6 separate regions of the Homo sapiens genome follow, and all the other regions are reported to be linked to region 1. The links are microRNA targets in miRTarBase. Many come from high-throughput screens and were not tested one by one. Region 1 holds a microRNA gene; each other region holds the end of a gene's coding sequence.
Evidence for each region. The annotated mature microRNA hsa-miR-224-5p reads UCAAGUCACUAGUGGUUCCGUUUAG and lies in region 1 at 1,619-1,643, opposite strand. An mRNA with a match to its seed (bases 2 to 7 or 8) in the 3' UTR can be bound and repressed. Matches are read on the target gene's strand: a 7mer-m8 pairs with bases 2 to 8, a 7mer-A1 pairs with bases 2 to 7 and ends in A, and an 8mer does both.

Region 2: miRTarBase lists ARL4D as a target of hsa-miR-224-5p. Seed matches in the 3' UTR shown: 7mer-m8 at 3,374-3,380.
Region 3: the mRNA of DIO1 is a reported target of hsa-miR-224-5p. Seed matches in the 3' UTR shown: 8mer at 1,403-1,410.
Region 4: miRTarBase lists PTX3 as a target of hsa-miR-224-5p. The part of its 3' UTR that is shown has no 7-base or 8-base seed match.
Region 5: the mRNA of VXN is a reported target of hsa-miR-224-5p. Seed matches in the 3' UTR shown: 7mer-m8 at 1,510-1,516.
Region 6: miRTarBase lists PELI1 as a target of hsa-miR-224-5p. Seed matches in the 3' UTR shown: 8mer at 1,612-1,619.

The regions. Positions count from the first base shown.
Region 1 is chrX:151,957,010-151,961,009 of GRCh38, forward strand. It overlaps MIR224 (microRNA 224), which reads right to left and starts at 1,649; the gene lies at 1,569-1,649. It overlaps GABRE (gamma-aminobutyric acid type A receptor subunit epsilon), which reads right to left. Exons shown (of 9, transcript NM_004961.4): 6 at 2,830-2,967. It overlaps MIR452 (microRNA 452), which reads right to left and starts at 2,703; the gene lies at 2,619-2,703.
Region 2 is chr17:43,399,939-43,404,059 of GRCh38, reverse strand. It overlaps ARL4D (ARF like GTPase 4D), which reads right to left. Exons shown (of 2, transcript NM_001661.4): 2 at 2,923-4,121. The coding sequence ends at 3,722. Among named protein-coding and RNA genes, the nearest start is that of ARL4D, 3.0 kb to the right of the region's middle.
Region 3 is chr1:53,909,613-53,913,660 of GRCh38, forward strand. DIO1 (iodothyronine deiodinase 1) reads left to right here. Exons shown (of 4, transcript NM_000792.7): 4 at 319-1,474. The coding sequence ends at 387. It also overlaps a transcript of IFT25 not described here. Among named protein-coding and RNA genes, the nearest start is that of DIO1, 17 kb to the left of the region's middle.
Region 4 is chr3:157,442,506-157,446,626 of GRCh38, forward strand. PTX3 (pentraxin 3) reads left to right here. Exons shown (of 3, transcript NM_002852.4): 3 at 1-1,128. The coding sequence ends at 474. All of the region lies in intron 4 of VEPH1 (ventricular zone expressed PH domain containing 1), which reads right to left. Among named protein-coding and RNA genes, the nearest start is that of PTX3, 7.7 kb to the left of the region's middle.
Region 5 is chr8:66,515,452-66,519,572 of GRCh38, forward strand. VXN (vexin) reads left to right here. Exons shown (of 6, transcript NM_152765.4): 6 at 442-3,073. The coding sequence ends at 625. All of the region lies in intron 1 of LOC124901955 (a long non-coding RNA gene), which reads right to left. Among named protein-coding and RNA genes, the nearest start is that of VXN, 24 kb to the left of the region's middle.
Region 6 is chr2:64,091,253-64,095,373 of GRCh38, reverse strand. PELI1 (pellino E3 ubiquitin protein ligase 1) reads left to right here. Exons shown (of 7, transcript NM_020651.4): 7 at 106-2,722. The coding sequence ends at 672. Among named protein-coding and RNA genes, the nearest start is that of PELI1, 51 kb to the left of the region's middle.

The DNA.
Region 1 (4,000 bases):
AAAATTCCTAGGCCTATAATTAGGTCGTCTTTTAAGTCCCTTCAAGGCAGGGCTCATGCAGGCCCTGTGGCTTAGCCCCTGCCCATCCAAGCTCAGAACAGCCTGGAACCCAGCAGACACTCAGCAACTCTTGCTCCTGTCAGGCAACAGCTTTGTAAAGCAGACCAGAACACTAACCTGTCCGTGTGTCCTCCTATTTTGGAAAGTGGATCAACTGCCCAGCAGGTCTGGGTGGGCTGGAGCTGAATGAGAAGAGCAGCCTTTCGTACTCACCTTGGCAGCACTGAAACTCAAGGAGCAAAGCTTCTCAGATTCTTCTGGAAGAAGGCAAGGGAGCGACCTGTTGTCAGTGGGAAACCTGTGTGTTGAGTATAGCTTTGGGATAGAACTCCTCCAGAGCTGCTGCACGGACCACCCTCGCACTTGCCTACTGGCCAGAATGTATTTATCAAAAGTCCTCTTGCCGTGGGATCTTGACTGCAATTTAAGACACTTCTAATTAGTTATACCCAGGCCCTGCAAAATTGCTGGGTTTATATAATATATTCTTGTTGCACGAAGATTTATTATTCTGTTGGATGATTCTATTTTAATTTTATTTATTCTGGCCAAAAAAGAACCTTCTCCGCTCGTCAAGAGATGCCAATTTGTCTTGAAGGACAAGAGAAAGATGCTAACACACACTTTCTTCTTCTTGAGGAGTGAGAGAAGCACGGGTAAGGAAAACAATATATCTGGGGCTGATGAACCAAAGCAAAAAAATATATGCTAAAGATGGTTTTCTGCTCAAACTCTTATCCTCTTTGACCAGATCATGGTTGGTCACTGCAGTGTCAGAGGGACACAATTAAATAGACCATGTCCAGAGGACTGGGACTAGAAGAATGAATGGACCCAAAGCTTTGAAGAATAAGGGAAGAAAAATAAACTAGGGCTATGTAGACTACAACAGACTATGATCCATGCCGGGAATGATGATGTTGATCGTTTAATCTCGGTCCTGTGAAACAGTGGCTGGACTAATGTAACCTGGACAGTTCCAAGGAAAAAGAACTAAGCTTAATGTGTGGAACTTCCAGAGACTCCAATTTCAGAAGAACAGGGAGAGTTTTTTGATGAACAGAACTGTCTAGAGAAGAAGGAAACCTCCTTGTAAGACAGTGAATTCCTGACCAGCAATAATATTCCATCAGAGGCTCCACAGCCATCAGTGAAGGGCAAGCCTCTCTCTGGAGGCAGGGCTGGACTCTCTTAGAAGCTCCTGAAGCAGAGATTCTCTGGATCAAGGTCCAAGATGGCCAGAGTAGCAGGCTACCACTGCATTCTGAACCCTTAATCGCCGAGCACGTAAGTATGCTCCAGATGGAGAGACCTGCCCCAGGGCCCAACTGGAAGAGTTTGAGACCAGTCCCAAAGATAACTCTGACATTGAAGGAACCACGTCTCCAGATCAACTAGTCTCCAGCAGAGGAGAAAGAAGACCTCTTTTCTCCTCAAGAATCCTCCTCACTCCCAAGGAGGTCTGGTGCTTACCTACTGTCATTGCTTTGATGATGATGCTGGCTCTGGGGCTTTGTAGTCACTAGGGCACCATTTTGAAACAATGCACAATCATCTACTAAACGGAACCACTAGTGACTTGAAAGCCCCTGGGCCTTATCTTCTCTGTCACTTTTGATGATGGGTCCCCACCTATCCGGGAAAAGCTGAGGTGCAGAAAACCAAGAGGCAGGCCCATGGTTAGCTGGCAGAAGAGCAAGGCTCCCAAGTCAAAGGTAGTAAAACCGCTTCCCCAGAGTCCCCAAGAAAAAGGGCAAGTATTTTTAAGGTAGCCCAGCCCTCTGCCCCTGCCTAATACTGTGCAAGCAAAGCTCTAGCCACATGAGCATGAGCTTTCCCTCATCCAGAGACTGACTCAATAAATGAAACAAAAGCAGATTTTCTGCCTAGTCACATGGTAGCAGAACAAGATGCCTCTCACGACAAATGGCTGGTTGGGTGACTGGCTCCATCCACATTCTGGAAACGATGAGGGCAGTGCCTTCACTGCCCTGAACTTGGTCAGGATGTGTGAAGAGTGTTTCCAGGGTTGCTCTGGGAGCTACCCTGGGGAGGTCCCTTGGCTCCTCATTCAGGTCACCTAGGAACATAAGTGAAGGTGCTCACATCTAATTGGGAGCTGAAGTGTAAGATACCCAGGACCTTCCCCTTTAGTCTTTGTCAGAGAAAAGGTCAGAAAACCAGTGGCCACTATGTCTATGTGGAATCCACCATGAAGCCTTTGATAAGAATCTGTGCTTTTCAGACTTGTTCCTTTAAGATAAATGTCAATGCAGCAGCCAGTGTAGCTGCTGTAACTTCCTCCAGACTTTCCCAGCCTTAAACTAGCTGACATTAGAACTCTAGCCTCCACCTCCCACTACAATGGACTTTGCTTCCCATTCAACCAGACTGGATTGGTTCTGGGTATGGAGAACTCACACGAGCTCCATTCCCCAAAGTCATCCAAAGAGGTCAGAGTTGTAACCTCGAAACTGAAGGGTCTGCATGAAAAAGCCAGCTGCACATTCCGACAGCAGCAGAACTTTATCTACTTACCTAACCTCTCAAGGAGCTTGGCAAAGCACTTACTTCTTTGCAGATGAGACTGAGACATAGTTACAAAGTCTCAGTTTCCTCTGCAAACAGTTGTAAGTGCTTAGCAATTATAAGACAGGAGCCATGTCTTACAATGTTTGCACGGGATGACTGCAAAGCATTTGTATGGATGGCCATCTCCAATCATCCCTACCACCTTCCTGGACTTCCGCCAAGCCCTGGCACGCTTACCAACTGGGGTTGTGATTATTTCAGTTTTGTTGCTCACTCCTGTAAAATCAAACTGGAAGAGCTTCCAGGAGTTCTTCTCATTGATTTCAAGCTTGAAATTTTCCCACTTGTAGATCATCTCATTCTCAGGATAGGAAACTGGAAAGGAATGTGAGAAAGAGGGTCTTATGAGACTTGGAAGCCCACCTGAGGTCTCCAATAGCATGAAGTCAGCCTGCACAATGCCTTGGAGTCCTGTCTCTGGCCTCACCAGCTGTGGGACCTTGCCTCTCTTACCTCATTGTTGAAGTCCATTCAATGAGTGCGTTTACTGAGCATTCCTCAGTATCAGGCCCTAGGCCAGAAATACAGAGATGAGCAAGGCATGAACCCTACCCTCAAGCAATCACATTTAATTTTATAAGACAGTGAGTATACTACTGTGATTTTTGGAGGAGCTCTGAAAAACCTATGTCCACAGAACAGCGGGGAAACAAAGTAGATAAAGGTCACTTGGGGACATACTCAGAAAAGACTTCATAAAGCAGGTGATATTCCCATTAAATCTTGAAACTCAAGTAAATATTCTCAATAAGAATGAGGTTGAAGGGGTTAAGGGGCAGTATAGAAAGGTGAAACACCTGGTGTATTGTGGAAAGGACAAAAGTTCAGGATGGCTAGCTCACAGAGGATGAGGTGCACAGGATTGGGTGGCAGGGTCCAGTTCATGAATGGCCTTGAGGTTCATTCTAAGGAATTTCAAATTGATCCATGAGAGTTAACGGCAGATTCGAGACTAAGAAGTGACCCAACCTAGGTGACCCTTCAGCTAGGTCACTCTGGTCCTTCTGTGAGGACAACATGTTGTCAAGGAGGCCAGTGTAGTAATCCAGGCAGAATTAAATTAATGCAGGTGGAAGTCAAAGCTGTACAGGGTGCAGAGAAATAGACAGCATCGATAGAGACTGGGAGGAAACACCAACAGGATGTGCTGATTGATTAGATGCAGGAGGTGAGGGAGAGGGAACATCAAAGTTCTTGATTTGCGCAACTGGGTGAGTGATGGTCCTCTTCAATGAGACAGATGGGAACCCAGAAGCAACACACTTGTTTTGGTGGTAGAGGTTTGGAGGAGACAATGAATTTCATTTTGGACATGTGCAGTTTCAAAGTGAAGATGTGGCAAAAGTCC
Region 2 (4,121 bases), not on the chromosome of region 1:
TAAAGCTCTCACTCCCCAGGAAGGGGAGTGAGAGAGCGGAAAGCTGGTCCTTAATCTAATCAAGGAGAGGGAAGAGGGAGGGAGGGGGGAATCTGAGCTCTGAGATAACTGTGCTCGCTCCCTGTCTCCTACCTCCTATCCTCTGCCCTGGGAGTACAAAGACCTGGCCTGGGAGGAAGGAGCTGGGTGCACTGCTAAGTGGCCGTGTATCCGCGGGCAAGTCACTGCCCACTCTGGGCCTTAGGGACTTCTTTCCTTCCTCTGTCTTCCTTGAGCCCTTGCAGCATGGAGAGGACTGGAAAGGGCATGGGAAAGTGGGGGACCACTGCCATCTTTGCCCTCATGATGAGGAGCTCCAGGAAAGGAAGGCTTCCATCTGGATTTTATGTTCCAACCTGTGCAAGAAGGGGTGGCTGGGTGGGGAAGGACAGCTCAGAAGAAAGCCTCAACTCTGGGGTTGGGCATGGTGGCTCACGCCTGTAATCCCAGCACTTTGGGAGGCTGAGGCAGGCAAATCACTTGAAGTCAGGAGTTCAGGACCAGGCTGATCAACGTGGCGAAACCCCATCTCTACTAAAGATACAGAAATTACCCAGGCATGGTGGTGCGTGACTGTAATCCCAGCTACTTGGGAGGCTGAGACATGGGAATTACTTGAACCGGGGAGGTGGAGGTTGCAGCAAGCCAAGATCGCACCGCTGCACTCCAGCCTGGGTAACAGAGGAGGAAAAAAAAAAAAAAAAAACGGCCTCTACTCTGGAACTCTGGGTCTACAGCAGGTTTCCCTCAACTTTACAGGCAACTAGCCTCAGCCACACCACTCTTGGCCCCCAAGGAAGAGCTCCTCAGCACCCATGCCAGGGTCTCGAAGAAATCCTACTTAATAGAGAAGCCAGTACAGGGCAAATATAACCTCACTCTCCATCCTGATCACACCCTCATTCCTTGCCCTTGCCCTGAGTTCAAAATGCAGAATCTCTGGGCAGGACTGGAGAGTGAGAGGTTCTCTCTCCCTCTCTCATCCTGCAGATAGGAAGTGATCCCTTCCCTTCCAGCTCTCCAGTCCCTTTGATGAGCCAAGGCAGGAGGATTATTCCAAAGCTCCTGACTCTGACCCGGCCACAATTTGTGGCTTTCTACTCAGAATTCCCCAGTGTTCCCCTCTCCCCACTACTCTGGCAGAGCAGTTGGCTTCTCCGTCTCTCTCTGACACAAGCCCCCATCTTCCTTTAGTGCCACCAGCTGGACAGTCAGGCCAGAGGGACTGGGGAAGAGCCTGGGACATTCAAAGGCCTCCTGTGGACCATGATCCCTGACCGCCCCCAGGGCTGGGCATGGGGAAGCAGAAGATACCTGTTTTAAGCAGGTAGGGAAGGAGTGTGGTTGGAAGAGCCAGAATCAGGAGCTGACATCTTGGAGGCCCCTCTGCTAGGGATTGGGGAACACCTCTGCACCTCTTCCCCCAAATCTGGAGACCTAAGTACACCAAGTGACAAGAAATGAAAATGTATAATTGAAGATTTTAAGACAAAAGAGCAGAATTTGGGTGGGGTGGGGAGGAAAGATCTCCTGGCAGGACAGAGGGTCAGTTCTGGCCAGTTCCTTTCCAGCCTGGACTGGGGCCTCAACCTGTCCTTGGGCTATAGGACTGTGCCCCAAAAAGACTGGGAGAGGAGTCGCAGGTGTGTCTGGGGGAGGGGCAGGTAGCACATGTTCCCAGCAGAACCAGCCCAGCAGTTCTGTCAAGCAGGCCCTAGCACTGACGCACACTTGGGCACCCTTCCGGATCAATGCACACTCACCCCAATCCTGCCAGCTACAGGGATGGGGAGGGGACCAAATCTGAGCTTCTGGCAGCGCTGGGTAGGAAGAAGCAAGTTCTTTAGGAAACCTTCCCCAGAAGTGGGGGTTGCCGGCACCTTCTCTTTCTCCCCAGGTCCTTTCATCTGATTCCGGAGAAGAGGAGACAGAATTGGGGAGAAGCAGGGTGTGAACGCTGAACCTGCTCTGGGGATTGTGTGTTTGCACAAAAGGTGGCAGGGGGTGGCTGGAGGGCTCGACAACTGGAAAGAATTGTGCTTGTTTTTTTTCTTTTTTAGAGACATGGTCTCCCTATGTTGCCCAGGCTGGTCTTGAACTCCTGGGCCCAAGCCATCCTCCTGCCTCAGCCTCCCAAAGTGCTGGGATTACAGGCGTGAGCCACTGTGCCCGGCCTTGTGCTTAGTTCTTACTCACTGCTCCCACCCAGAAGATTAAGAGGATCTAAGGGTTCTGTTATCAGACATAGCTGGCCCTGGTGCTGGTGAGTAGGGGCACTCAAGCCCTTGTAATATTAGCATTTTATTCTTACAATCACCACAAATACTGGGGGCTTATGTCTTCCCCCTTCTATCTTGGAGTCTGGAGGGTGTATGTCCAGCAGTCCTCTCTGCCACCAAGCACAAACAGCTACTACTTCTGCCCCTCTCGTGAGAAGAGCTACCATTCCCAGAGCTGGAAAACTCATGGCTTAGTCACCAGGGCCAGGCTGGCTCAATCCAGCCCAGGCCTCCCTAGCACCAGCCGCTGCCATCATGCCAGTGAGCCAGTCAGCAGGATTGAGTACACAGAGGTGACTTAAGGCCAGGGAGGAATTACTTTCCACTCTCACCACATCTTACAAGGAGGAAAAAAATCAAACCAACCTAAGACTGGGGAAGTGGGGAGGATGGGAACAGAATGGCTCTTTGAGGACTTACCTATATAGACTTAGGTGTCACCAAGGTCAAGAACCTAGGAGTAGCTCAGACTAGCAAAATTTGAAGTTAAATCTGCAAGGAGCAGTTGATATAAGGGACAAGTAAGACCCAGAGGATGAGGGGAGGGGTGTTAAATCAGAGAAAAAGGAAGTGACCCCACCCAAAAAACTACAGAGATCAGGCAATAGCTTGAGGGGTTTTCCACTCCCCCCTATAATTTTCACAAGCCATCCCGTAACACACAATCTAATTTTTATAAGTGCTTGCTTTGCAAATTCAGCTTCAAGATAAATCTCCCTCCCCCTGCGCCACAACCCCATATAGAAATCTTGAATTGTCTCTGGGGCAAGATAAGGAGAGGAAAATGCCCCAGACCAAGGTAAGAGCTACAGTTATCAGTCTTTAATAACTTACAGGCAAATGCTAAAAAATAGTTAATAACAATAATACAGAGGACACACACAGCTTATAAAAAGGGTCATGGATCTACAAATGTGGGGAGGGGTTCTTGGCACTTTCACAGACACAAAAATAAAAACTATGTGACTGGTATTCCTAGAAAAGCAGCCTGGGGAGACTCCCCAGTTGGGGGACAGAGGAAGGGGAGATAGTTATTTCATCCCAAACACATTCTCCAAGTCACTTCCATCCCCCCGCCCCCAAACACATCCAATTAAAAATTTTTAGCCAGAGAAGAAAAATAAGAAACAGGGTCGAGGTAGAGTCACAGTTTACATTTACGTCTCCACAGTCCTGCAGCGCCCACTTCTCCAGAGAGGATGAGAGAGATATGCAAAGACATCCCATCTCCCATCCCCACCCCAGTGTGGCACCAAAACGGGACACCCCATGCTCCTCTCTCCTTCATTGAGGTGGACAGGTCCTGCACCCCAGTCTGACTGAGAGGTCACAGGCTGGTCCCACCCTGCTGTCCAAGTGTGCAGACCCCTACTAGGTGGGAGGAAAGGGAGGGGGGGCTTGGGTCACCGTCTCTTCTTGCCACCCCGAGCTGCCTTCTTCCTCTTGAGGATCATCTCATAGAGGCGCTCAAGGCCCTGCTGCAGGCCCAGACCGTCCACAGCGCTGCAGCCTTGCACATGAGTGAGAGTGGCGGCTGCTAGCTCTCGGACTGCCAGCCTCTTCTCCACCTCAGCAGCGCTCAGTGCCCCGGGCTGGTCCTGCTTGTTGGCCAGCACCAGCACTGGCACGCCCTGGTTGTCCGAGGCCCGGCTGATTCGGTGCAACTCCACCTTGGCTTCCTCCAGCCGCTCAGCCTCCGCAGCGTCCACCACAAACACTAGACCGTCTGTCCGGCGGGTATAAGAGCGCCACAGTGGTCGCAGCTTCTCCTGCCCCCCGACGTCCCACACTTGGAAGGTGATG
Region 3 (4,048 bases), not on the chromosome of region 1:
GAAGATTAGGCCAGTCTGAAGGTCTGATTATGGAAGAAAAGCTTATTTGTACAGAACCCTTCTCTTTTTGAAAGACTATGTCACTTTATGTCCTCTAGTTTTTCTACTTCTCTGTCCAACCTTCCTGTTAACTGCTGATGCCACTGTACACACTTTCTCAACCACCTCACGGTTGCATCTGCCATTGAATTAGCCATGCTGATGGCTCCTACACAGACATCATTTGACCACCTCTTGCAACTAACCTCCAGACCTACATGTTCCTTACAACTTGGAAATCCTTACAAGTTGGGAATGCCTGATTCGTTTCTCTTGCAGGGTAAATCTGGCCCTTGGAACTACAACCCAGAGGAAGTTCGTGCTGTTCTGGAAAAGCTCCACAGTTAATCTGGACAGATACCTCAATTCTAGGTGACCAACGGGAGGGCTTCTCAAGGCTTAGCTCTCCCTGAGACCCAGCTGGCTTTTACCCTTGACCTGTGTCCCTAGCTGAATCACTAGCTCAGATTTTTCTGATCTAAGCAAACAACTCCCAGCTGAGGAATGCAGGCCACAGCACCCAATCAAGACAAATTGTTATTATCAGAAAATGAAGCAACACTTGAGCTGTTCAGGCCAGTTCCCTGTTGAAGAAACAGTTCCCTGTTGAAGAAAGTAGAGCCTGACACTGCTCCCACTTTGGAGACCACATTCCCTGCACACGGTCTTTGAGAGAGCAGTTGCACTCTACAGGCACACTTCTGAGGTACGGTATCTCTCTCCAGCCACTCTGATACCAAGTAATTCAAGCTGGCATTCCTTCTATTAGGGAAATTCATTTTACCCAATTTGCATTTATGGAATTGATCATTTAAGACACTAAATTAGTTTTTAGAACCAATTATGGGAAGAATTCCAGTTGTTAGGAAGAGATGAGGAGTTGGAAGAGGAGGGATTAGAAACAGGAGGAGGCAGTCATCCTCTCCTTGCCAAAAGATTTAAACCTGTCCACATTGGTGGTGATGATGGGTGAGTTTCCATGGTAACACATCCCTAATTTTACCAGGGAAGAGGAGAGTACTCACTTTACCATCTTTGAATATATTTCATAGAAATCTAGCTCTCTGTACCCTGAAATCTTCCACTAGCCTCACTTTTCAACAGAGTCATCTAGAAGGGAGGGTTGGCTTCCCAAAAGCATAACCTTGACCAAACCAAACAATAGGCACCAGCAATGCTGTCATTCAGTTATGCAGAAGCTCATTTGTGAAATTCTGTTTCTCTGATTTCTTCGCAAGTCTCTTAATGGTCATTTGTGTTAGATTACATCAAACTGATGGATAGCCATTGGTATTCATCTATTTTAACTCTGTGTCTTTACATATTTGTTTATGATGGCCACAGCCTAAAGTACACACGGCTGTGACTTGATTCAAAAGAAAATGTTATAAGATGCAGTAAACTAATAACAGAATTATTAAAATATATCAGGCTATTTTGGATGGCTTCCGTGTGATCTTTACATTTTCTTTTCCAATTTGTATCTGATTACCCAGTGTAATCTGACCAGCAAAAATACCATACGCTGAAAGGGCCTCATTTTGGGGGAAGAACATTCAGGCCCTATGTTACATGTTAAATGTGGTTTTGTCTTATGAACTCCTGCTGGAGTGAAATAATTTTTCACATTGGAATCAAATTACCTTTATAACATGACATAAAAGAATGGATCAGGAGACCTTTTGCTAGCATGAGAACATATTCTCTTTAGCTATACTTTAGTTGCTACAAAGTTAATATTATTAATGTTGTCACTTTATTATTTTAAAAATAGTTATTGCAAGAGGCTGAGGCAGGAGAATCACTTGAACTCAGGAGGCAGAGGTTGCAGTGAGCCAAGATGGTGCCCCTTAATTCCAGCCTGGGTGACAGAGCGAGACTCCGTAAAAAAAGTTATTATTAATCATCTACCAGGCACAGTCACTTTCAGATATGTTATCTCATTTAATCTCTATATATCTCAAAGAGGAGATGATTATCCCCATTTTACAGATGAGGAAATCAAGGCTCAGAGAGTTAAGTAACTTGCATAACTTCTCAGAACTAGTAAGTAACAAGCCGAGATTCAAACCGGATCTCTAACTTCAAGGCCAGAGTCCTAGCTCTGTTCCTGCCAGCTGGGTGACTTTGATCAAGCTGCCTTGGTATCTTGACCTATAAAACAGGGTATCAATAGTGCCTAGTCCATAGATTCATGAGTAGAGCACTCAGAACTGTGCCTGACTTGGAGAAAGTGTCATGAAGTGTTGGCTATTATTACGATTATCATAATTATTGTCCCACAACTGCTTCCTCGGGCCCTTTTTTGGGGGGTTGGAGGTGGAAGGAGGACAAGACAATATGGATGCTGAATAAAAATTCCCCATCCTACCAAAGCCACTCATGACCAACATAGGCATGAGTTTGTGAGGCTATACTGAAAATGAGAAGCTGTGACAATGATGGGACTGAAGCACAGATGAGCACTCACTGTTCCTCCTAAGTACTAAGTTGCACAAAAGGAGACAGGATGTAAGGCAAGCCTCTTCTGAATCACTTCTCTGATGGTCTTCCAATTCGTGTCTACAAATGCACAGAAATCTCCCCATTTTCACTAAATAATAGTAGCTGGAACTGAGGAGCTTTTCAGAATGACAAAAATAGACCCCCGGCTTTCCAATTAGATTCTCTTCAACTTAATGCATCAAACATTGAGCATTGATTCTTTTCTGGGTGCAGAGTTATGCAAAGATGGACGAGGAAGAGCTGTTGTCCTCCAGCAGCTTAATCTCACAGGGGACCAGACATACACTCCAATGACCATAACTCAAGGTGGAGTATATGTTAGAGTGAAGACTAAGTGCTCAGAGGGCACAGAGGAGACAGCAATCCTCTGAGCTGGGTGAATCCAACAATGCTTTTTGGAGCTGGTGGCATTTGAGCTGGTCTTCAAAGATGCCCAGTACTTCCATAATTTGGGATGGGAGCCTGGAGAAGATGGGAAGGGAGAAGGGCATTTCAAGTGAGGAGAACTACAAGGGCAAAGGTGGGAAAAGGGCTATGTGCAGGAGACTGCAAGAGGTTTGGGTTCAATTCCAATCCTTTTGTTTTACAGTTGCTAGCCATAGGCCAGTGTAGTTCAATGGTTCTCAAACTTGGGCATGCAACAAAATCACCTGGAGGGCTTGCTGCAACACAGATTCTTGGTTCTCATCTCCAGAGTTTACGATTCGACAGATCTGAGGTTGAGCTAGGGAATTTGCATTACTAACAAGTTCTCAGGTGAGGCTGATCCTGCTGTCCCAGGAACCACACTTTGAGAACCGCTGCTATAGTAGGTGTTGTTGGTGCTCTGCCCAGATGCCTTTTACCAAGCCATTGTACTCATGAGCCAGCTGCTGTGAGTGTTGGCTGCTAATGGCTCACAGATGCACTCTTTCCTGAGAATTTGCCCTCATGACAGGAGCTATCTTACCCAGAAATACCTGTGAAATTATGTCCTTCACCTGAGTGTGGCCCACAGCCAGTGACTGATGGATTTGAAATTCCAAAGCCTTTTCCCTTGCTGCAAGGTGGGGCAGTCTACTTCTCCGGTGCCAGTCATGCTTCAGAGCTCCCTATGGGATCAGACTGAGGCTAGACTTCAGCAGAAGCCATGTTTAATTTTTCCCTCTGCCTGATCCTGCTTCTCTCACTTCCTTAGAGGTTTCTCCTGAGAGCGCTCCCTCAATAAATCACTCTTCAAAGAATCCTTGTTGGAGGCTCTGCTTCTAGAGAACCTGACCCAGAGCAGTCCCCTTCTGGGTCTTTTCTGATTATGAGTCTTCATTAGTGGGGCTTGTTATCTGCTGAAACATAGTGTGGGATGAGGAGTCAGGTGGCGCAATCTGCAACTTTCATTGACATTCGCTGTCTTGAGTAGCCTATTATTAACTAAATTCCTTCCTTTGAGATGGGGCTCAGGGAAATCCCCTTCAGTTACACTCCCTTTACTTTGGATGCTTTTTCACCTTCTGCTATGGATTGAATT
Region 4 (4,121 bases), not on the chromosome of region 1:
TTTTCCTATGGCACAAAGAGGAATCCATATGAAATCCAGCTGTATCTCAGCTACCAATCCATAGTGTTTGTGGTGGGTGGAGAGGAGAACAAACTGGTTGCTGAAGCCATGGTTTCCCTGGGAAGGTGGACCCACCTGTGCGGCACCTGGAATTCAGAGGAAGGGCTCACATCCTTGTGGGTAAATGGTGAACTGGCGGCTACCACTGTTGAGATGGCCACAGGTCACATTGTTCCTGAGGGAGGAATCCTGCAGATTGGCCAAGAAAAGAATGGCTGCTGTGTGGGTGGTGGCTTTGATGAAACATTAGCCTTCTCTGGGAGACTCACAGGCTTCAATATCTGGGATAGTGTTCTTAGCAATGAAGAGATAAGAGAGACCGGAGGAGCAGAGTCTTGTCACATCCGGGGGAATATTGTTGGGTGGGGAGTCACAGAGATCCAGCCACATGGAGGAGCTCAGTATGTTTCATAAATGTTGTGAAACTCCACTTGAAGCCAAAGAAAGAAACTCACACTTAAAACACATGCCAGTTGGGAAGGTCTGAAAACTCAGTGCATAATAGGAACACTTGAGACTAATGAAAGAGAGAGTTGAGACCAATCTTTATTTGTACTGGCCAAATACTGAATAAACAGTTGAAGGAAAGACATTGGAAAAAGCTTTTGAGGATAATGTTACTAGACTTTATGCCATGGTGCTTTCAGTTTAATGCTGTGTCTCTGTCAGATAAACTCTCAAATAATTAAAAAGGACTGTATTGTTGAACAGAGGGACAATTGTTTTACTTTTCTTTGGTTAATTTTGTTTTGGCCAGAGATGAATTTTACATTGGAAGAATAACAAAATAAGATTTGTTGTCCATTGTTCATTGTTATTGGTATGTACCTTATTACAAAAAAAAGATGAAAACATATTTATACTACAAGGTGACTTAACAACTATAAATGTAGTTTATGTGTTATAATCGAATGTCACGTTTTTGAGAAGATAGTCATATAAGTTATATTGCAAAAGGGATTTGTATTAATTTAAGACTATTTTTGTAAAGCTCTACTGTAAATAAAATATTTTATAAAACTAGCTCACGTCATTTAATTATAAATTTAAGAGATGTTTTGGAGCAAACTCGTACTTTTCTCTTTTCATTTAAAGTAGGCAATTAGTTTTCAGATACTATTATGTAAACAGCATGGTTAATATTGTTAGGAATGAGCAACTATAGACTTGTTTTAAGTTTGGCTTCCTATAAATCATAAGCAAGAAATATTATCTCTGCCAAGTCAATTCATCTCTGTGGGTTTTAGTTTTCTCAGCTGAGAAATCAAGGAATTGATGAAATAAGAATCTCTAGGACTCTTCCCATTTGACAATTCTAGGAGCTTATACAACTTTCTGTACTGTGTAACATAAAAACAAACACCAAACATGAATTATCACAGTTCCTCAGATACACATGATGCTGCAAGACATGGCTTAGGAATGTTATTTGGGAGACCTAAGAATCTGGAAAAGAACTCCTGCCCTGAAAGCACACCCCATTCTCTTCCTTACTCAGAAGGGAGAGGTCAAGCCCCTTCACACTGTGGATGGGGAGGTAACTTTTCCCCACCACACTAGTATTCTCCTGTAGATTCTATGTGAGGGCTGATAGAAGGGCCTCACAAAGCTGATTCTGAAATGTTGTGGGCCCACAGTGATGATATGTCCTCTGAAAGATAGGGCATGGACAACCACAGGACATTTCCTCTTCATGAGGTTTGGAGAATAGGACCAGGAGTAATTTTGTAACTAACTAGCTAGGTGTCAGACAAGTTACATAACTCCTCTGCTTCTTCTCAGTAAAAGGAGGTGATTGGACTCAGTGCCTTTCAGCAATAAAATTCCATGAATCTAATAATTTTTGAGTATGTTCATCATATAAGTATAGCTTCATTCCACTTGTGAAACCCACAAACGAGGCTAAGCCTCTAAGAAAATCACTTGTAGTTAGGGGCTGATAGGCCAGTCTCAGACTCTTGGAGATCACATAATTCAAGGCTCTAGGCACACTGGGCACATGCAAAGTCCCTGTCTAGCCATTGTCTATATGACTTGAACTCCCAGCTGGAAGAAGGAAAACTAGACCCAAAACTTAAGCAGAAAATTAGGCATGATTTAAATTCCTTTACATGCTGCAACACGAATTATACATGTTTAAGTGATGCCAGATGTTGCAGGCCGAGATAAATGCAAACTCATATGCTGACAGAATTTAATATAAGAAAACTTTTAATTTTTTTAAGTAATTACATGTTTAGGGTGAAGAACAAACAAATAGAAGAAAATAAAATAATACTTGGGTTAAAAAAGTAGAAATTTCATCTGTTAGAGCAGTAAGTCTAGCTAGGAGTTCTAGGGACTTCTAATTGTTCCCAGATATTCATTTTCTCTCTTTCTCTAAATGACAGAATCCTAGCTTTAGTGGAACATGTGACCACTCAGAGTAAATTCTATATTTTTCAACATTACTTGCAGCTTGATGCAGCCATATAACTATGTTCTGACCAACGCTGAAATATTATATGTGATTCTTTTCCTCCTTCTGTCTGATTGGAATATGGTAATGGGCTGGAATTTCAGCAACCATCTTAGACCAGGAGACCCCATGCAACAATACAGAAGAAGCATGGGTTCCTGGTCATTGTGAAGCCATCTAGCCAGCCCTGAGCTGCCTGCCCACGGACTTCTTTTACGTGAGAGAAAAATATACTTTTGTCGTGTTTAATCTTTTAGTTGGTTGATCACTCAATCTAATTTTGATCCAGTAATTTTTATTTTAATTTAAAAAACTACAGCCAGGCGGGGTGGCTCAAGCCTGTAATCCCAGCACTTTGGGAGTCTGAGCCAGGCAGATCAGAAGCTCAGGAGATCGAGACCATCCTGGCCAACATGGTGAAACCCGTTTCTACTAAAAATACAAAAAATGAGCCAGGCATGGTGGTACGCACCTGCAGTCCCAGCTACTCGGGAGGCTGAGGCAGGAGAATCTCTCGAACCTGGGAGATGGAGGTTGCAGTGAGCCCAGATCATGGCACTGCACTCCAGCCTGGCAACAGAGTGAGACTCTGTCTCAAAATAAGTAAATACATAAATTAGCTGGGTGTAGTGGCGTGCGCCTGTAATCCCAGCTACTCAGGAGGGTGAGGCAGGAGAATCTCTTGAACCCGGGAGGCGGAGATTGCAGTGAGCCAAGATCGCACCACTGCACTGCAGCCTGGCAACAGAGCGAGACTTCATCTCAAAAAAGCAAAACAAAACAACAACAACAGCAACAAAAACAACTACGCACTTTATTCTCCCTAAAACACCCATAACCTAAACTTGGAAAATGCATTTTACAAATTCTCAGGAAGTTGGATATCTGACTTAAAAAAACAACAACAACTAAGCAATAACATTTAATGACTTTGAGAATATATAGGTGTTAGCAAAAGGAGGAAATAAGAAATGTGCAAAACTGAGATAAAATATCTAAAGAGAAGTATCAGCATGCTGGCTTATGTTAGCACATTGTCACACATTTTCATTTACCAAATACTTATTGCGACATCACCATATTACAGCATAGTAAAGTAATTGTGCAAGATGACTCAAGCTATTAGGAGGAAAGATGTATGTGTAATAAATATGTAATATATATATATACATATAAATAATATTATTTGTGTGTGTAGAGTGAACAACTGTCCTGGTTTGCCTAAGACTGTCCCATCTTTAGCACTGAAAGTTCCATGTCCTGGGAAGCCCTCAGTCCCACGCAAACTGGAACAGTTTTTCACTCTAGTATGTATGTATATATCTCCAGCAGAGCTAATTTTTTGGCAGAGATAATATATGAACTAAACACAGTTGATATTATTTTCCTTGTCTATTACAATATAAATTGGCTTATAAGTATTAACACCTTTAAAATATATTCAGAACATTCTACTACCAAGCATATAGTGTAGAATTGTAGAGCTTTCTATTTACAATTACTTGATTGACTTCACTTTAACAAAGAATTAGATTTGCAAACAAACAAGAAATTATAATTGATTTTTATTTCATTTCCTGTCAAATCTTAGATTAGAAATCTC
Region 5 (4,121 bases), not on the chromosome of region 1:
ACTGAGGCTGGTAAAGGTTAAGTCACTTGCCTGAGGTCACACAGCAGATGGGAAGCAGGATTCCATCCCAGACCTCATGCTCTTTCAATAGCTACTGTTTGGGGAACTGTCCTTTCCAGCAAGTTTGTTCACATAGAGGCTGAAGGGGTAGGTATGCAGAGCCTTTGGCAAGACCAGACCCAGAGCAGGGGGACAGTAGCAGAACTTGAGATCCCATGAACCAGTGTGTTCAGGGTCACCTCCTCCATTCATGCCATGGGAAGCTTTCCCCAAGGGAAGACGTTCCTGTGAGGGTCCCAACAGTGACCTTACAGCTACGTGGATCCCGGTCACTGAGGAGGAGCAGAGGAGAGAGAGCTCTGGCCACTCTTCTTAAGGGCAAAAATGAAGTTTGGCTTGTGAGCAGACCACCCTCCCCACCCACTCCTGGCTTTTCTTTAGATCCAGACATCTCAAGAAGATGACTGAAGAGTATCCAGCCCTTCCCCAAGGAGCAGAAGCCTCTCTACCACTGACAGGCAGTGCTTCCTGCGGCGTCCCCGGCATCCTCCGGAAAATGTGGACAAGGCACAAGAAGAAGTCTGAATATGTGGGAGCCACCAACAGCGCCTTTGAGGCCGACTAAAGGTGACCCTCTTCAAGTGCCCTGTGTTGGCCAAGGTTCCCCGGACAAGAGGAAAAACCTTCAGGATTGAAACTGAGCCACACGCACCTCTGCTAGTAGCTGGTCCAAACCCATTATCCTCCCTCACTCATTGATTACCCTGGGATAGGGCACAGGAAAGAAATGTCCCTCGAAGGCAATATAAAACTGCCCCTTCTTAGAATTGCTAAAGCCATTGGTCTGAAAGTGACTTTGGGAGGTCATAAAGTTTGTATCTCTATCTTTAAGCAAAAAATTAAACTTTCCCAGCTCATTTTAAAGACCTCCAAGGAAGGAAAAAAGCAATTCCTCTGTCTTCCTTGTGAGTTGCTCTAAAGTGTGTGATTTTCTAGTGTAAATGGACTTTGAGGCACTTGTAAACACAATGGTTCTTACTGTTTCCATTACTGCATTTACTTCACCTTGACAAGGTACAATTTTCAAGGACAAAGCACTATATATAAAGTTAGTAGTTCTAATATCCACTTGAGAGTATACTCAAGATTGATTTTCATGGCCATTTGGCATGATTGCATGAATTCTCTATTCTTTTATGTGCAGTTTTTCTATAGAAAAACATTAAAAGTTAAATGTTGACTGCTAATGTTTTCTGAAGTGGCATAGTCTAGTGGAATCAATAATCCCTTGCTTTGGTATAATAATTTGAACTTTTGAAAGTGCTTTCTCATCCGTTATCTCTTATCTTCACAAAACCCCTGTGGAAGAAAGCACAATTATTCCCAATCTGCAGAGGGGGAAATGGAGGCCTTCAGAGATTACAGGACCAGATACCAGGTAGTGGAACCAGACAGCAGGTCCTTAACTTCTCTCCAGTGGACTCCCTGCTTTGCCTACTCTCTAGCAACTGACTTGGGGAAGTTTTTAAATGGTGAGAGTGTGTCTCTGGGGGCAACCATTGAAAAGAAGACTCTGATATGTTGGAACAAGTAAGGGATTTGAATGAAATACACTATTATATCTTATATGTTAGCTTGAACCAGAAAAAGTTGACATTTTTGTAGGTCAAAAACAATTGAGCATCAATTTCATATGGTTCAACCTCATATATGATACTATGCTTTTCTTCTATCAGTGAAAATGTCATCATCAATTCCATTGTCAACATTAGTAGCCTTAAAACAATAACATAATAATAATGATGATAATGATACTTATAGCTATCATCTATTAAATGCCTATGTTTCAGGCATGATACTAGGCAATTTATATATATCATCCTAATCTTTCTAAAAACTCTATTAGGTGGCCCTATCCACTTAATAGATGCCAATTCAAAGAGGTTAAATGATTAGACTAAGGCACCTAACTTATGTGAGTGTCAGGCTTCAATGCCTGTGTTAGAGCTACTCCTTCACACAAAATAGTTCAGAACATAGAGAAGGACCAAGGTTAATAAATGATTTTCATCCCAAACACTAAACATGATTGATGGGTAGAGGCTGCCCGAAGTACTGTGTAAAGATGGAATCTGAGATAGAAGAATGCTGTGGTCAATTAGTAATTCTTGCCCATGGAGGGATTAGTGACACATGCCTTGTATATTTGTCATCTGTGGCCTAAACTCTGCCCCTGAAGGTTTGTTTTCTAATTCAGAGGTTTAAATTAATCTAGCCCACTTAATAAAACCAGAGATCCTATGGGAAATTTAGCCTAAGACAGTGCTGGAAATTGCCATATGTTGATACAAAGAAGTGTTTGGCCACATTACAGGTCTCAGACTCAACTGCTATGTGTGACTGCCGCTCTGTGCCTATGTCTTGCTTTTTTGCTGAGTTCCCTATTTCCATATCTCCAGGTGAATCCATGAGAAGCGAGAGGGTGGCTGAGAGGCCTGGGCCTCTGGGATTCCACCTTGCTATCTCTGCTCTTCAACCATTGTTTTAGACTCTGAACACCAGATCCTCATATCTGAAAGTGATTTGGAGACCTGGGCATCAAGTGCTCTTTTAAGAAGGGGCTATCCCAGAGGACTGTTCAAAAGTCTCATTCAATAGAGATGTTGGAGTCCAGAACAAAGTTAGGGAGCAAACCAGTAACCTATGCTGGTCGTAACAGAGGATCCTACAATTACGTTTGTTTTTAAGACAGGATTTTGCTGTGTTGCCCAGACTGGTCTCAAACTCCTGGGTTCAAGAGATCCATCCTCCCACCTCAGTCTCCTGAAAGCTGGGATGACAGGCACATGCCACCACACCTAGCTCCTTACAACCATTTATTTTAACTTATTTCATTTATAACTGGTATCTTTCATTTGTATGTGGCAGCTAGAGATTTATATAGGATGGAAGTAATTTATTTTTAATTTAAATATTTCATGTTGAACTGTTTGCCTTGTATGGAACATTTTACTTGGCCAATTCAAATAAAAATAAAGTCAGCTTTGTTTGTGACATTCATGCACCACCATAAGAGCATGCCTGAGGCTCCCTTGTTGAATAAAAGAGGCGACTTTCACGAAGGGAAAGAATTAGGAGCCTGTACCTCACTGCTCCTTTAAATGAGAGGGATGGTAAGAAAGAACCCAGCGTGTTCTTTCCATCCTAAGGCAAAGTCTGGTTTTGATATTACGGGCACTGCTCAGCAGTTAACAGGAGGGTCACTTCTGTCAGGGCCTGGACTGGCCTGACCTGTCCCCCCTGGGGTCAACCTCCTCCTGCTGATGCTGACTCCTTGGTCCCCACCATAAGCCCCAGGGGGTCCAGTGGTTATTGCCAGCCTGCTAGTCTCTCACCCTTGATGGGAGGAAGATGCAACCTTCCTGCTCTGTGCCCACCTCTTGTTCAGCCTCGCTAGAGACTGCCCCCATGACTCATGTCACAGCCACTTGCAGAAGGACGCCAAGGCTCGCTGCAGCAGGCCGTCCGGGAATGGCCAAGCCTGGAGTCTTCTCGAGCCAGAGGCAACAGGGTTTCCAGGACATTTAGGGTAATAAAATCGCCTCTGTTAGGACCCAGTCCAGTCAAATATTTCTGTTCTTACTTGAGCACTCACTGTGGCGGTTCCCCCACCCCACCCAGCACTCAGGTTGTCTTTTGAGCTGGCAGATGGGCAGTGGGTAGGAAAAGCAGCACCAGCCAGAGCCTGACTTTAAAAGGAATCATGTGACACGTTGTCTCCTTGAAATTGGCAGAGACCGAAGGACAAGCAAGGAAAAAACACAGGCAGAAAGATGACTCTCCTAAGGATTAGAATTTGCATTGAGTTTTGCAAACCACTGAGAGCTTTGTGATTGAATCCATCACCACAATGCGCAGCAAGAAGGCTCTCATTCTGCAGACCAGGCCACATGCCTAGAAATTTATTTAAATTTTTTGTTACTTTGGACCTGGGACAATATTCATACCTTTTAATACCCTTGGTCGGGAGGGAGCAGGGAGGGTGAGAAATGGCAGCAGAAGGAGCCTGACATGCAGCAGGTCATCCGTTGGGTAGCTGAGCTGCACCAGCCACGTCCCTA
Region 6 (4,121 bases), not on the chromosome of region 1:
CTAGGAAACCTCATTTCTTGAGTAAGGAGTACTTAAAACCAAAACACTTATGTAAAAATCCAAAACAGAGTGGTGAATATGTTTTTCAACTCTTGTCTCCTCTAGGTGGAAATTGAAACCAATCAGTTACAAGATGGCTCGTTAATTGACCTCTGTGGTGCAACATTGTTATGGCGTACTGCAGAAGGCCTTTCCCACACTCCTACCGTGAAGCATTTAGAAGCTTTAAGACAGGAAATCAATGCAGCACGACCTCAGTGCCCTGTAGGGTTCAACACACTAGCATTTCCTAGTATGAAGAGGAAAGACGTTGTAGATGAAAAACAACCATGGGTATATCTAAACTGCGGCCATGTACATGGCTATCATAACTGGGGAAACAAAGAAGAACGTGATGGAAAAGATCGTGAATGTCCTATGTGTAGGTCTGTTGGTCCCTATGTTCCTCTGTGGCTTGGATGTGAAGCTGGATTTTATGTGGACGCCGGCCCTCCAACCCATGCGTTTAGCCCGTGTGGGCATGTGTGTTCAGAAAAGACAACTGCCTATTGGTCCCAGATCCCACTTCCTCATGGTACTCATACTTTTCATGCAGCCTGTCCCTTTTGTGCACATCAGTTGGCTGGTGAACAAGGCTACATCAGACTTATTTTTCAAGGACCTCTAGACTAACAGACCATTGTCTTGCAGGACTACATTATAAATTTATAAGCTAAGTGAGTTGGGTTTTCGAACCTGTTGTCCACGTCACAGTTTTTCTGCTCTGGTCATTTGCATTAAGATGAAGAATTTTTTAAAACATTTATAATAAATAGTAGCAATTTCTGAGCAAAAATCTGGGAAACTCAAGCAAAGGAATTTCTGAAAGTATCAGTCTTCTGAATTCTGAGTTTTGAAAATATATTTTGAGGAGAAAAAGACATAGTCTAATTTGATGCCTTCCTTTTAGTGTTTTTGAATCACCTATCCTCAGTGCTGAAATTGTTTTGTATAACTGAGGGTACTGTTGGTTCAAACTATGTTAGTTTACAGTTTGTTGCAAACATTGTAAAATACAGCGACATGTATATTAACTTTTTTCTATTTATCTTTATTATAGAAAATACCTTAGAATGTTCTTGATAGAGTAGCATGGTAACGATGGTGTCACACCCTTGGTGTGAATGGTAGCTTAGTGAGCAACCTAGCTCAAGGATTTGCAAAGTTAGGAAGAAGGACGAGAGAGCCTCTCTCCCCACCCCAATCTAAATATGGAATTTGGTAAATTAGAATACTTTGTAATTTGTAAGACCAAATTCATACTAATTACCCGCGTGAAAGGTGTTTGTTTTTAACAACATTGAAGATAATCAGGAAAGATTTTTTCTTAATGTTTCTCTCGAGCGTAGTACTATAACAAAAACTTAATGCTAAGAAACATTTTATATGCTCCTTTGGATATGCAATTTAATCTAGATTATCTATTTTTCTCCCATGATAACTAATCTGTTTTTAGTATCAGCAGCATTTGGCAAGTTTATTTTTTGGATATAAACTGTGGTTCATCTGTTCACTGTTTCTAGAAAAAAATCATTGCCATAAGAAAAAGTATAAATTAGCAAGAAAGGAGAGTGACTTGATTTGCTTTTGGAAAAAGAAATGCTTAATTAATTATTCTGTATTTGGCCTTATTCGGGCATTAGGAAATCTAGAGATCTAAAGGGTTGAATGACAATAGTGCCCCCGTTTTTAGCAGACCAGCCTTAACTCTGGGTTTGAATCCTAAGGAGATTGCCACAGTGAGACTTAAGGAAATGTTTGGTTGGCAGATGAGCACCAATGACTGCAGCGTGGAGTGACGCACTGCATGGTCTGTTTATTCTCTAATTCCAATATGTCTTTTGCTTCCAGAAGCAAGAAAAGTTTCTTCTCTCCCCTCCTTCCCACCCTTTTTTCAAAGGCACCACAAGTATAGACAGTTGCACTACATCAAATCTTTTTTTGACACTTGTAGAAACCAGTACACTTTTAGATTAGACAGTATCTTCTTTTAATATTTTGATTTGTTTTCCTTTAGTTTGAAAAGTTGTATAATACTTAACTGACTGTAGCAAAGTTTTATATGTGGTAGCATACCTTTAATTTATCCTATTACAAAACTGTTCTGAATTTTCTTTTGGTTTTTAAAAAACAAAACTTGTTGCTTAGAAGCCATGAATTATTTTATTTTACTTCAACTGTCGAAACTTCCTTGTTTTAAAAAATGATCATTTGGGTTCACTCAGGAAATGCATGTCAGGAAACTTGTATTATAAGTTTATTAGTTGTGATGTATCAGTAACTGCTGTTACCCCTTTTTCAAAGAAATGTAATTGATTTTGAAGTTTTCTAGATTGTCACATGCTTTGTGACTAATGCAAGAAAGCAAGTCCTGTGTTGTATTTGTTCTAGTCATTTTTATTCAGGCTATATATTGTAGCTTAATTTTTATTTGCAATTAATTTATTTAAACTAAGTAAATACTTTTCAAAATACATAATTGAATTCGTCTCTGTGAGTTCATTTTTGCATAATCGAGAATGAGAAACCAGAAGTGAAAACTGTGAACAACTCTATTCCACACTCCAAAAATACTCATTTGAAATAGATGAAGAGTTTGCATTTAATGTAACACTTTAAAGTATCTGGTTCTTTTTTAAAAGCATCTCTTACTAATAAAGGAACTTTGTTAGTGGTTGAATAATTGAGGCCTTTTCTAAGTTAAGCCTTGCTAGGGAGTTGGCACCTGTAAGTTGCATGTTAGACTATTTAAATAGTGGCTTCGTAACCATAAAAGTTGCACGTCCTTCCCAAAGTTGCCTGCATTTTCTTCTAACAGGTAAAAACAATCTCTTCTAACAGGGAAAAACCTGGCTCATTTTCTATCAAATTCAAGTTTTAAAAATTCAGGCAATTTAAATGATCAGTTGGGTGTTTGCTGTTCAAGCAGAACTGTTATTTTGTCATGGCCTAATAGAACACTTTTACTTAGTTGTATTAAGGGAATGTCAGTATTCTGGCCAAGGAGGAGAAAAAGTTGTATTTAGGTCTTCTAAATGCATTCTCAAGAAAGATAATCTTTATGGCTTAACTCTTTTATCAAAGTAATCTTTATATTTAAATGCTACTTAATTTGTTCAAGGAATTAAATTTCCCTTTATCTAAAATGTTAGGGTAATGAAGCAAGACATGAAGGGAAGCCATTCAGACATCAGAGTTCTTTTACTAGGTTATCCTCTTGCAACCTTCTTTGCTTACTTCCCTCATGTAAAAGTCTTCTAGTACATGTAAAGCAGGGTAGGAATAAATAATAATGTAAGTATGTAATTACTTCTTCTTTTTTTTTTTTTTTTTGAGACGGAGTCTCACTCTGTCGCCAGGCTGGAGTGCAGTGGCGTGATCTCGGCTCACTGCAAGCTCCACCTTCCGGGTTCACGCCATTCTCCTGCCTCAGCCTCCCAAGTAGCTGGGATAACAAGCGCCCGCCACCATGCCCAGCTAGTTTTTGTATTTTTAGTAGAGACAGGGTTTCACCATGTTGGTCAGGATGCTCTCGATCTCCTGACCTTGTGATCCGCCCACTTTGGCCTCCCAAAGTGCTAGGATTAATTACTTCTAACATTTGAGTGTCCCACTTCACTCTTCCCGTCTGACCCAGACTGAGGGCACTGGTGAAAGTCCACTTATTATGTCTCTAAGGTTATAAGCTCAACATAACTCTAACACTTTGGCCCTTCGTTGCAATGGATCATCTTGTGCTACCACTTCTTTTTTTGTTTAAGACAGGGTCTTGCTCTGTTGCCGAGGCTGGACTGCAGTGGTGCAATCACAGCTCACCACAGCCTCAACCTCCCAGGCTCAAGCAATTCTTCCACCTCTACCTCCTGAGTAGCTGGGACTACAGATACACACCACCATTCCTGGCTAATTTTTTTCATTTTCAGTAGAGACGCCGTCTGACTAGATTTCCCAGGCTGGTCTCAAACTCCTGCTCTTAAGCAATCCTCCTGCCTCAGCCTCCCAAAGTGCTTGGATTACAGGTGTTGAGCCACCACACCCTGCTGTGCTACCACACTTTAGAGACCACTGGTTAATAAACCTAT